Linked DNA regions of Homo sapiens: region 2 is linked to region 1. The links come from fine-mapping of genetic effects on gene expression. A gene starts in region 1. The other region holds a variant in brackets. All regions are shown on one strand. Distances are from middle to middle.

What was found. PIP is the estimated chance that this variant, and not a neighbour inherited with it, causes the effect. A credible set is the group of variants that fine-mapping cannot tell apart.
Region 2: its variant is the best candidate, but not a certain one, in a credible set for the expression of CPNE9 in monocytes (TOPMed, PIP 0.65).

Annotation. Positions count from the first base shown.
Region 1 is chr3:9,702,765-9,705,666 of GRCh38, reverse strand. It overlaps CPNE9 (copine family member 9), which reads right to left and starts at 1,834. Exons shown (of 21, transcript NM_153635.3): 1 at 1,603-1,834; 2 at 1,040-1,080; 3 at 872-918; 4 at 673-776; 5 at 167-203. The coding sequence starts at 1,670. RefSeq lists an enhancer at 1,285-2,195.
Region 2 is chr3:10,552,310-10,555,211 of GRCh38, reverse strand. It overlaps a transcript of ATP2B2 not described here. Among named protein-coding and RNA genes, the nearest start is that of ATP2B2-IT1, 17 kb to the left of the region's middle. RefSeq lists a silencer at 1,233-1,527. The variant CA/A (reference allele first, on the strand shown) is at 1,570.

The DNA of each region.
Region 1 (2,902 bases):
GGCACAGGCAGGACACTCAGGCAGGAGGAGAGGGACCAGGAGGGTGGGTTGGGGGCCTGAAGAAGATGGGGTCTGGGTCGAGGGTTGGGAGGAGTTCTGAGAGTCGTTGAACACATCTAAGTGCCTCCTGTGCGCTCCGCCAACCCTCGAGGAAACGTTTGCTCACCGGTTTGGAGATGTTGGTTTTGGAGTCCACGTTGTACCTGGGAAAAGAGTGGAACCGGTGTGGGGTGGGGCTGGGTGGGGGAGAGGGTGGAAAGGGGTCGGGCACCGAGTCTTGGTGAAAATTTTGGGTGGAGGGATGGGCGGCCGTGGACCCGAATTCAGCTTTGGTCTCCTTTTGGGGAGGAGTCAGGGTGGGCTGAGTAGTCAGACGGTCAAGCCTGGGCCGAGGCCAAGTCAGGGGCTGCTGGGGGCAGGGTTGTGTGGAAGGGGTCGGGCCTGAGGTGGAGCTGCGATAGGAGCAGAGTTGTGGGCGGGGCCAGAGCGGGGGACGGAACTGGACCGCATCTCATAAAAGGGCAGGGCTCAGGCTAGAGGGGGCCATTCAGAATGGGAGGGAGGCCTGCGAGAAGAACCAGGCCGGAGGCGAGGCGGGGGTGGGGCCAGCCAGAATTCCGGGCGGATCCAGGTCGGGGGCGGGCCAAGCCAGAATTCCAGGCGGGGCCTCACACATCGAAGCGCAGATTTTGCTTTTCCTCAAAGAAATAGTCGAGGACGAATTTGCGCACGAAGTCTGGGTTCAGCGTGTTATCAATCACCTCGGTCCGTCCGAACTGGGTAGGGGGGTGGAGGGTCAGCGTGGGACGTGCAGACGGGCAGGGGAATTCCCGGGCGACGCCCTGGGCCGGGAGGGGGCTCTGGGACTCACCTCCCGCCACTCCTGGCTGGCCCGGCTCTGCGTGTAAAGCACCACCACTGCAGGTGGGGGCGGGGAGGGAAGGACGTCAGGTCGGCTCCCACCCCTGGCCCCGACTCCACCCGCCCCTGAGTCGCGCCCAGACCCCAAGTTCCCCCTCCCGGTCCTGGAGCCGCCTACTGGGGTCGGACTTGGAGAAGGTATCAAGGTCTAGCAGGTTCCTAGAGAAAAGCAACAGACAGACAGAGTGGATCATCCTGGAGTCCGCCCGCCTCGAGTCGGCTCTGAGCCGGGCACTGAGGAGAGGCATGGGGCCCGCATCGAACCTCTGTCCCCCATGGCTACCCCCAGCCGGGGTCCGCTCTGTCAGCACTCTGGACAGCACCGGAAATCGCTGTCCAGGAACCATGGCTCTGCGGACTGGACGCGAACGCACCCACACTGTCTCCAAGGGCCCAGGAAAGAGGGCTCGCCCCAGAACTTTGTCCTCCTGGGGCCGAGCTCCTACCGGATATCTGCGACCCACCCCCTGAACCCGCAGGCTGAGCCCTTTTTTCGGGGTGGGGCTGCCCAAGACCCCCCGCTTCTCGATCCCACCAGCTACTCGCCCTGTCATCAGCTGTGATTTTCCAGCCAATTTCGCCTCTCCCCGGGGGTCTAGCCCCTGCCCAGGCTGAGCCCCGCGGCTGGCTGGGGCTGGGGCAGTGCCAGTGCCTAAGCCCTCCCCAGCGCGGCCCGCTCACCGGCAGGACACGGTAATTTCAATCTTGGTGGCCGGGACGCTGCGCTCGGAGGCTCCGCCGAGAGACATGGCTGGTCGGGCGACCAGAGCCGCAGGAGGCTGCGAGACCAGGGCTGCTGGGGCTAGGGGCGACGGCAGCGGCGGGGCCGGCCCATGTGCCGCGGTGTCGGCGGCGGCGGCGGCTGCACTCGCTCCAGCCCTGCGTGCGCTCCAGCCGCTCGCGCCCTGACAGTGGCCGCCGGCGGCAGCGGCTCCAGATGGCAGCACAGCCCCGCCCGGCCCTGCGGGCGGCCCCCGCCCCATTGGAGCAGCCTGGAGCCAGCGGGGAACCTCACCCCGACTCCCAACTCCAACCCACACCTTGGTAGAGTCTGCCCTGCGCAAGTCTCTGGGGTGGAAACCCAAGCCCCCTAGAGTTGTCCATGATGCTGAAACATTTGGGGCACCTGGTGGGCACTGGAATTGTTGCCTCTTACTGAGCCACTCCCTTAGTGTTTCTGTCTTTTCCCACTCCCAGCCTGCCTAGGTCTCTGAATAGGAAAAGTACATCTCTTAGTAGCTGTGTGACCTTGGACAAGTTACTCAACATCTCTGTGGCTCAACCGTGAAAGGCCGTCAGAAAGGCCTTTAACAGCAGCTACTTTAGGTGCTGTAAAATTTTACTGAGATAACCCAAGGAAAACACTTAGCACACAGCAAGTGCTCAGTAAACATTCACTGGTATTTATGATTTGTCCTCTGGGTATTCACAATGATGACAGTAAATGGTGGCTGTTGAGCACCGTGCAAAGCTGTCTGCCCATGCCTTTAACCCTCACGACTTTCATGGCGTTACAGATGCGGACACACTCTCATGACGCAATCTACTGTAGGTTACACTGTAGAAGAGGGTGGTGGTCAGCCAGGCTCTCACCCACCACACATGCACACCAATTGCTATCTCCAAAGCTTCAGAAGCCAGTCCTTCCTCCATAGGCAGGGCTCAAGGTAGGGGATGCAGGTCACCCGTACCAGGACCCTGCTGCCTACAGAACTTGTTAAAGATGAAGATCCTGGTCAGGTACGGTGGCTCATGCCTGTAATCCCAGCACTTTAGGAGGCCAAGGCAGGCAGATCACTTGAGCTCAGGAGTTTGAGACTGGCCTGGCCAACATGGTGAAACCCCATCTCTACTAAATACAAAAATTAGCTGGGGATGGTGGCACGTTCACGTAGCTACTCAGGAGACTGAGGCAGGAGGATCGCTTGAACCCAGGAGGCAGGGGTTGCAGTGAGCCAAGATTGTGCCATTGCACTCCAGC
Region 2 (2,902 bases), 850 kb before region 1:
GAAATCTAAGAGCAGGCATTGAGCACCTACTGTGTGCTCACATTTTATCCTTGCCGTTTGATGTGGAAGGTGCTATTCCCATTTTCAAAGAAAGGCACTGAGGCCATAGGCTTTGGGCTGCCTGTGCTTGGCAGGGGCGAAAAGGAGGAGAGTACCCTCCTGCCTGTCACATAATGGGCCTCTGACCTGCCTGTGCCCAAGAAAGGTTCAGAGGGGATAGGTTTGGGGTCTGGGGTCCTGATCAGGCCAGCTGGCAGAGAATGGCAGGGAAGGGGCCTAGAAGTTCCAACTCCCTGGCAGGTGGCCTCAGTAGCCTCAACAAGGTCTGACCCACACCCAGAGGTGCCTGTCACTGTTTGTGTTACTTGCTTTGGGACCTTGAGTAAATCATTTTATTCCCCTGGGCCTTCTGTTTTCTGAACTCCAAAAAGCTAAATGTGATCTTCAAGGCCCTGCTTCTGGCTTAGGCATTGCAGATTTCTAAGTGTGGTGTATTAGCTTACTATTGCTGCTGTAACAAAAAACCATAGACCAGGGGATTTAAAATTGATCAGCTGACAGTTCTGTAGTCAGAAGTCTGACACAGCTCTACCGGGCTGAAATCGAGGCAGAGCCACATTCCTTCTGGAGGCTGCGGGGGAGAAGAATCTGTCTCTGGGCCTTTTCCATCTTCTAGAGGCTGCCTATTTCCTTGATTCACAGACACTGAATCTTCTGCCTCCCTTTTCCACTTTTAAAGGTCCTTGTATTCCATTGGCCCACCCAGATCATCCAGGGTGATCTCCCCTGTCTTAAAGTCAGCGGTGAGACACCTTCACTCCATCTGCACCCTCATTTCCCTTTGCCATAAGCTGACATATTCACAGGCTCTGGGGGTTTGGATGTGGGTGTCTTTGTGCAGCCATTATTCTGCCTTCCACACCTGGAAACTGAGACATTTCTGAGAGGCCTTGGGCAAGCTGTCTCCCCTTTTTGGACCCAGTTTTTTCTCTTCTGTGAAATGGTGTGGCTGCTTTGAAAACAAAGTGAGAGGATGAGTGTTCAGGTGGGTTACAAAGGGTCAAGCGCCATACATGGGGTTAATTCTTTATTCCTGGGGTATTTCTATTGCCAGCAATGGCAGCTGGCAGCCTCTCACCGGGCCCTCATGCCTTCCTATGCCTTGTTCTGAAAAGCTGCAGCCCCCACCCCCGCCCCACTAGACCCCCAGAAAACAAACGTGGGTCTGTGTACCGCTCCTGCTCATTATAATCTCTTGCTTCTTTTCACAAAACCCCAGGGGCCCCTGGGATTTGGGAGCTGGGGGATGTCACTCAAGGATGCCTATTGAGTGCTAAACAATGGCCCCCTCATGAGGTCATAGGGCCGCTTAGCAACCACCCAGGCCCTTAGTAACGGGCCCAGAAGTGTTGATATTTACCCAACAGAAACTTTGGATTATCTCGATAACACCCAGTTCCTTCCAGAGAGCTGCAGGCACTAAAAGCAAGCTCCACCCACTCCGAGCTGCTGCTCTGGCTCTTCCAAGAGCAGGCCTATGGAGGGGCAGGGAGTCCTGGGTTTCCCCCC[CA/A]GCTCTGCAATCCTCTGAGGGCCTCAGTTTCCCCCACAACATGGGGATCAGACTAAATAAGTACTAAATATTTAAGTAGTATGACTGTATGTCCCTGCTGGCCCAGAACAGTTCCATTTTATCAAGACTATTAAAAGAGGCGTTTTCATTCTCAAGAGTTGGAACATCAACCTTCTGGTCACCCACCTCTAAAAGGCCACTTCCAGCCCTCAATCCCATTGTTCTTCCCCTCCACCCTCTTTCCCAGTCTGAATTAATCCTGAATAGTTTCACCTAGCTTTTTCAAGGTCCCTCTCTGTGTCAGGCATGGAACAGGGCGCTGAGGAAACTGAGGCAAACCAGACGTGGTCCCTGCTTTCAGGAGCTTCCAGTCCGGGAAAGAACACCGCTTAAACACTCTGCAGAAATCTAGGTCTGAATCTAGAACCTTGCAATTCTCAGACTTATTTGTGTTGTCTTCACTAAGCTATTTTAGTAAATAATAATACTCCATAGAATTCCGGTGGCATTTTGCAGTTTCTAAAGCATTTCTGTTATGTTCCCTCATTTAACCCTGACATCATCTGAAGGTGTGATTTTAATATATTCCCATTGCACAGATGGGGAACTGGAGGCTGGAGGCCATAGAGGACAGAGCAGTTGGATGCCCTTGAGGAGCAATTCAATCTCTGCCTCCTTGCCTTCGAAATGGAGATGTTAGCTCCCACTTCATAGAACTGTTATGGAAAGTAAATGAGACAGCACATAGAAAGTCCTTTGGAAAGTGACAGCTGCCTAAAATGAGTGTTTCTGCCCTGAGCTGTCTGTGGCCTCAGCAGTTGCACTTCCTGGATGTTCTCCAGTTCACCTGCTTCTCACATGCCCACAGACACCCATTTGTAAATTTCCTGACCCATTTTTGAGCACAGGGAACACATCTTGGTTGGAACCCCAGCTCTGCCTCAGGGCAGCACTGTGGCCTCGGGCAACTTCTAGCCTCAGTTTCTTCATTTGTAAGAGGAGATAAGAACAAGTCATCCTGAGGATGGAAGGAAGCAAATAACATAAAAGCAGTGCTGAGGGGAGCCAACCCAGCACATAGCTGTTGCTCACAAATGGGAGGTTCTGGATTGCCTTTCTGATGTTAAGTATGTGAGAAGACTTTGAACGTGTTTGTGTGAGAGGGAGCTATGGAGGGCAGCACCCACAAGATGGGATTTTTCCCTCACCCCAGGAGCCAGGCCAGCACTCACTTTGGGCGGAAGGCAGGACGCTGCCACCTTCTCTAAGGTTGGCTTCCAGCCACGTTGCAGCAAGGGGGTTCGGCTGACGAAAGCTGTTCCCTCTGTGCCC